Homo sapiens: one gene and its partner. The protein of the gene in region 1 interacts with the protein of each later gene in a pairwise test. Each region holds a gene or a part of one and is shown in the gene's direction. Other genes may lie near its edges.

Evidence for each region. The genes of interacting proteins can lie anywhere in the genome.
Region 2: the proteins of PIAS4 (region 1) and SMAD1 interact in a two-hybrid assay, tested with the Homo sapiens proteins (2 studies listed by BioGRID and IntAct).

Annotation. Positions count from the first base shown.
Region 1 is NC_000019.10:4,014,096-4,017,745, forward strand, and holds part of PIAS4 (E3 SUMO-protein ligase PIAS4), read left to right. Parts: intron 1-3,650.
Region 2 is NC_000004.12:145,488,283-145,491,932, forward strand, and holds part of SMAD1 (mothers against decapentaplegic homolog 1), read left to right. Parts: intron 1-1,994; exon of another isoform or gene 1,995-3,650. UniProt on the Homo sapiens protein: Transcriptional modulator that plays a role in various cellular processes, including embryonic development, cell differentiation, and tissue homeostasis.

The DNA of each region.
Region 1 (3,650 bases):
GGAGTGTCCTTGGTCAGTGGGCTCAGGTCACTGCCAGGCTGTGTGCACCGGGCGTGCTGGGGGTTCAGGGCGATCCCAGGCGGAGGAGAGGTGCTGGGCTCCACGCTTCTCTCTCTCGTGTCTTTGTCTGCAAGCACTGACTGAGCAGGAACTGTGTGTCAGGACCTCATAGCCCACAGCAGTGTGGACAGGCCCCTGGTGCCTCCCCAGCAGCCGTGGCCATTCAGGCTGCAGGTGGGCATTGAGCCCAGTCTCTGCCTCAGCCATAGCCCTGAGCTCAGGGCCAGGGAGGCCTCCGCAGCCCCAGCCCCCAGGGCAGAGAGAGTGTGCAGCCTCTGGGACTCCCAGATAGGGAGCGGAACGTCCTGGGCCTTTGCGGACCTGTGCCTTGAGGCGCTCAGATTTCACCAAGTCCTCTGTGTGCCTGGAGGTCTCTCCGTCTCTTCTTCCTGCCTCCCCTCCCCTGCCCCCACTCTTTCCTTCGCACAGTAAACATCGGAGCGCCTGCTGGGTGGGTGCGTGATGGGCACCAGGCGTGGGCACGCAGCAGGGAACAGGACCAAGGCCACGAGGTTCAGAACCCTGTGCATGCCCCCTCCCACCCTGCTGACCCAGCAACCTGCCTGGCCCCTGCTGTGGCCTGAGGGCCCTTCTCTGGCACGCTTCAGTCCATTGGGTGCCAGCTGGCCCCCGCTCCCCTGCCCAGGGAGGCAGCGTTGATGGGGGTAGGGGGAAGGGGAACTGGCTGCTTTTCCCCTCCCATCTGCAGCCCTGGGACTTAGTGAGGTTAGGCTGGAGGGGCTGTGCTTCCAGGTGAGGATGGAGGAAGTGGAGGAGGGAGGAAGGTGCTGTCGGTGGTTCCTGCGGCAGCCGAGGCTCCTCCCTCCAGCCTGAGGCTCCGCCTTCCAAGTGAGGCTCCGCCTCCACCTTTTTTCTCTTGCAGGAGGTGTCTAGCAGCAGCCTCCTGGGGAGCAGGTTGGCCCAGTGGCACCTGTCCTGGGGGACTCAGGGTCTTGGCCTGAGTTCCATCGGACTGACTTTCCCAGCCTTTGCTCTCTCATGAGGGAAGCTGTTCCCCCTGCCAGGTTCTTGGGCAGAGCTGGCTGTCTCTGAAGGTTGGGCCTTGGGAAGGACCTGCATCACAGGGAGGCTGGGCTTTCCTGGGAGCGGCAGGGCAGGCTTGGTCCAGGGCGGGGGACGGGGCTGACCAGCTTCCTTCCTGCACGGGGACCAGTAGCTCCGTCCCACAATACATCGCTGTGCCCTGAGCCACCAGGGACCCCGGTCACCTGATCTCCGGGAGAGCCTGCTCCCCTGTCTACACCAGTGTGCCTGTGCTGGCGGCTCAGAACAAAGAGGCCATCCCCACCCTGCCTCTCTCTCCCACTGGCTCTCTCTCCATCTCAGGCCGCCAGGTGAACCTCCTTTCCTGGATTCCGTGCTCTTGGGGGACTCCCTGGGGGCCACCTCGGTCCTCAGAAGTTTCCTGGAGCATAGCCCCTGGCCCCGAAGCAGTGGTCCCCATGGTTTTAGGACCTGAGATGCCATCTGTCCGCCCTGACCCTGGGCTGTGTCCCTCCCCAGGGTGCACTCTGTGGTGCTGGCCTTGCCCGGGGGCCGCCTCCGGAGGACCCAGTTCCACCGGCTTCTCCCTCACTCCCTCCTCTGGCTGTGACCCACCGTCCAGCGTGAGGCCCACCGCTCTGGTCTGTTTCCCCGGAATAGCCGCCGGCCGGCTCCAGGATGGAGACCGCGCCAGGCGGACAGGAGCCATAAATCACGCGGTGCGGAATGCTGGGCTGGGGGAGGGGGTGACAGAGCCACAGAGCAGGCTGCAGGGGCCTCAGGCTGTAGGTGATCGGCTCCAGTGGGAGGTGCCGTGTGTGGGGACGGGGCTGGCACCCAGAACAGTGCGGAGAACGGCCCAAGGTCGCACAGCGGCCTGCCTTCCCTCCTCCCGAGCCGACTGGCTCCTGCTCCTGAGCAGAGGCTCTGGCCTGGACCTCTGCAGGCTGGGAACCCTGTCCTGCCTGTCGGCAAGGAAGCCGGCGCCACCCCTTTCCAGCCTGCGCCACCTGGGGAGTCCGGCTAGGGAGCCTGACCCTCCTGTCAGGGTACTTGGGAAGAGAGGCTGTCAGGAAATGTGGGGCAGAAGGAAGGATACATGCTGGCCGGGCACAGAGCTGCTCCTCCAGGGTCTTGGCCCGCAGCGGGCACCCCGAGGAATCTGCCTGCCCACCCGCCTGCTGTGCAGAGTGGAGCCCCTGTCACCACGACTCCAGATGCCCCCAGAGGCAGATAGCCCTGGTACCAGCCAAGAGCCGCCGGTCTGGCATGTGCTGTGCTGTGTGTAGGCACCTGTGCCCTTCAGCCTCTGAAGCCCTTGGGCCAGCATTGCCCAGGCCACAGCAAGGTAGCGTGGTCCCTGCTCAGGTGCAGCACAGAAGTGCCAGGTGATAAGTCTCATGGCACACGGAGGGCTTTCAGGGGCAGCTGTCAGTAGCAGGAGCCATTTACTCTACATTTGTGAGGAGGTAGCAGTCAGGAAGGCCTCCTGGAGGCAGCAGCGTTTCAGTCCAGACCCGAGGGTGACTCTCAAGAAGCCAGGCAGAGAGGAGGGGGCAGGGGAGCGTATTCCAGGCAGAGGGCAGTGAGGGCAGAGGCCGATGGCCAGAGAGGGCTCATTCATGGGGCTGAATGGAGTTCATTGTGGCCAGAACATGGTGCGCCCAGGAGGAGGGACGCAGTAGCCTGGGCGCGGGCGGCAGAGGCTGGAACCCGAGAATGGTGGGCCCGGGGAAGGCTGGGGGCTACCCTGCTTGCCCCGAGGGCTTCAGCGCCCCTGAGGTTCTGGTATGATTTTTGGGGTCAGTGAGGAAACTGAAGTGCAGGAGGCAAGTGGCCGTCTGCCTTCCACAGCCAGGCCTGCTGCCCGCCCAGGCCCACCATCTGTCCGTCTGCACACTGGGGGCCTGGATGGGCACGGAGCGTCCTGTGTCACTGTCCCACATGTGGGGTAGTCTGACCCACTCAGCCCGCTGGCACTTCCCATACCTGTGGTTGGGGAACAGGGGGACTCCGCCAGCTCTGCCCCAGGTCTTGGCCTTCAGGTTGAAGAGGAGGGATGGGCCCACTGCTACCAGATGGGGGGCTGCCAGCAGCCACCCCCATGTCCCGCTAGTCCTTCTCCCATCCCCTGTGGCCCCCTGCCCTGCCCAGCCCAGCTCCCCAACCTGCCCGCTGGCTGCAGCCTCCTGCTCTGCTTCCTGCCCACTGGTCCCCCTCCCATGGCAGCCTGTGAATGTTTTCACTGATGGGTAGAGTGGTCGGCATCACCCCTGTGCCTAGCCAGGGGCACCTGTTCCCCGCCCCTCCAGGACAGTGCCCCCTGTGTCCCTCATACCTGACTGTGCTGCCTCTACTCTTGATCTGGGGGACCTGGGTTGGGGAATCAGTGCTGGTAGCTCTTAGCTGGACAGGGTGGGTCCGGGAGTTAGAGAACTTGTATGTGCCGGGGAGGGGACAGCCTGGGGAGGGGGCCAGCACATGGGCCAGCTGGAGGGGGAATGGTCCCATCCGATCAGCTTTTTTTTTTTTTTTTTTTGAGATGGAGTCTGACTGTCGCCCGTGCTGGAGTGCAGTGGCGCGAT
Region 2 (3,650 bases), on another chromosome or scaffold:
CTGTTTGGGAAGAGGAGGAGAGAGGGGTCTCTCTGTTGATTCAGAATATATTTTTATACATAAGTTTTAATGCTTTATTTGTAGTTTCCCCTTAATTGTAGGGCTGCTGTACTGTGGATATTTTGCTCTACAATCTGAGATTGTTAGGGTATAGTTACTCCAACTATTCATGTATTATCCTCTCCCTGTCTTTTTGTGTGTGTGTGTGTGTGTGTGTGTGTGGTTTCTTTGTGGTGTGCTTATGCAAAGTAGAAGTATTCCAGACCTTTATAGCTTTTTTTTCTTTTAGTTTCAAACACTTCAAGAAAAAAGGTGGGGGGGAGACTCTCTCAACGGTTATAATTAGGCATTAATTAAGCCATTATTCAGTTAACTAAATGCAAGATCTTTTGTTTGTTTAGATGGAAAAGAAACGTATCTTTTTAATGAAGGAGGGATATTAAATGGGCCCTTATTTGATCATTTTGCTGCAGTATTGTAATAAGTATATGCTTCATTTATTCCCTGAATATTTATTAGTTCTGAGGCTTAATAATTAGAGTATACACAAACATGAAAAATTAAATGCAGCAACATTATAAGAGCCGTTACAAGGTAGTATAGGAGTAAATTGTACAGACAACTCACATCAGGACCACTGTGGCCTGGAAGGACATGTGAGTTTGCATAGGCAGAAGGAAGAGGGACATTATAGACAGAGTAATGGCATGAAAAACTGGGAGATAAGCATGAGTGTTGAGTATCTGTAGAGCAGCACTGTCCAATAGAATTTCTGCAGTGATGGAAATGTTCCACATCTGTGCTAATACAGTAGCTGTAGCCACACATGGAACAGCATTTTTTAAAAAATTAATTTATGTTTCAGTAGCCACATGTGGTTATCATATCAAATAGCACAGATCCAGAGGCAGTGAGCAGCCCTGCCTGACCTCAGTGGGTGTTCCTCATGGAGCCTAGTATGGTGGTGTGGAGGAGATGCTCAGAAAGGTTGACTTCCAGTGAGAATTTTAGGGCCTTAGAGTGCCAGAATAAGGAAACATTGGGAAGTCACTGAAAGTGTTTGAACATGCAGTTTGCACTGGAGGGATAGAGCCCAGTGCCAGGAGATCAGTAAGAAAGCTATTGAGTTATGTGTGAGATGATAAATCTCTGGTAAAGGTAGACATGGAAAGAGAAGGATTTAAAAATAAATAAATAAATAAAATAAAACAAAAAACCATGAAGGCTTGGTGATTATGTGGCTATAAAGTAATGAGAAAGAGATGTCGGAGATATATCCTTAAGTTTCTAAACTTGGTGGCTGGAAAACTAATAAAGATGTTACTTAAGAATAGGGAAGAGCTGGTTGTAGAAGAAATAAAAATTGTGCAAATGATAAATTAGACTTGATGTGTTAAATTTAAGGTGCGATATCTAAGTCAAAGTATGCTACAGGCAGGTTGGAGATAAGGTTTGGGAGGACTTGAAAGCTTTACGTTAGACTCTCTGCAGTCATCTGCTGGGTATTCTGAGACAACCACAAAGAGAGAAAGAACTGGTGGATTGAATCTTCCATTGGAGCCCACGGTTAGGAATTAATAGAAGGAAGAGGCTAATTTGAAGTAGACTGCCTGAGAGGCTGTTTGACATAGACCAAAGAAGAAACTGGAAGAAAGGCATGGGGTCAGAGGAGTGGGAAAACCAGGAAGCCACTGGAAGAGAGATTCTAGAAGTAGGTTTGGAGGGGAAAATGTACAGTTCAGGGTGAAGGAGAAGAAGTCAGATAATCATGTGAATGCAATTTCAGAGAAGGCTGAATACATTAAGAAGTGAGAGAGTCTTATATTGCCTTAAGTGACTTGAATTTTAAGATAGATGAGACCTCTTCATATTTGAAGGTTGAGGGGAAGAAGTCAGTGGACAGAGAGCAATTGGAGGTGATGGAGTTAGCCATCTGGAGCACAAGTGACAAATGTTGACCGTGGTAAGGAGGGAGAGTTGTCTGAGAAAGAAACAGAATGGGGTCCGAGTGAGAAGAAAGCATGTGGCAGAGCTCCTGTGCACTTTTGCTGATTTTCCTGTATTGTTGGAGGTAAGTCCTTTCACTGGGATGGTGAGGAGGAAGATCAGCACATGGTAAGGGAAGAAGAACCACCGTAGGTAGTGTGCCAGGCAATCTATAGAGAAGTCAAATTCTAAACAATTGGGGGGAAACCTGGGGTGAAGTGTGGTGAGGCTGCTGTATAGGAGACTAGGTTAATTGTTACTTTTTGGTATCACTTTGTGGCCTGGTAGGCTTAGGGATAGCAAATGGGTTCAGAGATAAGACTCTAGAGTCAGATTGCCTGGGTGTAAGACCAAGCCCCAACACTTACTTGTTTTATAAGAAGCCTGATGAACTAAATGAATTGAGAAGCAGTAAGCAATGAGAATCTTGGTAATGAAGTAGTGAAATATCAAGTTTGGGAATTTGTAGATAGAGCATTTCCCTAACAATTCTAGATAAAGGTTTCTAAGAAAAGTATAGAAATTGAACTAACAGAAGAATCCCTGTAATGATTTTAAAGGTTAAGTTAATTAGAACTTAAAAAAATAAGTATTGTATTCTGAATTTTTCTGTGGCTTTTATTACAGCATTCATTACGGTTAAAAACATTTCTTTTTCATTAAACCAATATGTGCTTAATGCAGAAAGATTCTGCAGTGGATTCTTGTCATAGTGTTAGAAGGAAAGGGGAGTTTGATTTATGCCACTGGGGGGAGGGTTATTAATAGCCAGCCACAGAGCCCTTCAAAATGTGGCTCCAAAGGCAGAAACAATAAAGGAAACTTTTTATAGATTTGATAGCATTTATTATGTGACCAAACATACTCAAAAACAAAACCTGAAAGACAGATAAAGAGATTTGCAACAAGATATTGTTCTTTACAAGAAAGACTTATATCAATAGGAAGCACCACCCCAATAGAAAAATTGGTAGTGGACGTGAACAAGCATTTCACAAACAAATGAAATGCCAACTGCTGACGGGAAGATTCTGCGCCTGTAATCCCAGCTACTCTGGAGGCTGAGGCAAAAGGATCACTTAAACCCAGCAGTTCAAGGCTGCAGTGAGCTATGATTGTGTCACTGCACTCCAGTCTGGGCAACAGAGTGAGACTGTCTCAAGAAAAAGGAAAAAAGAAGTACAAACTACTAATGAACACACAATGTTTTGGTTATGTCCTGGATCAGACTTGATTGAAATGGGGATGATGTCTTCCTTTTTCCTGTATTTTGTTATTCTTTGTATACTAGGAAGTATCAGTCTGGGAAGACTGGGCTTTTCTCATTTAAGGAAAGGAAGCCCGAATTTCCCAGCCTCCTAGGAGAATCTGGAGTGTCAAGGAGGTACAAGATATATACAAAGTAGAGTTATAAGAGGCAGGCACCCTGCTTCCCTCCATAACATGGTTTTCGTCCAGGAGTTTCCTTATTGCAGTGTGAGGGGCTATCAGTTATACACAGTTTCTCAGTCACCTGGCGTAGATGATGAACCTTGAAGACACCAGTGCTTCCTAGAGCATATTGAAATAGGCCCCTTTCTCTCCTACCTGAATTGCAGTATTAGATTTTATAGTGGCATTTGCTCATTGATGTGAGACGCAGTGATGGTCTTGGAGTATAGTTT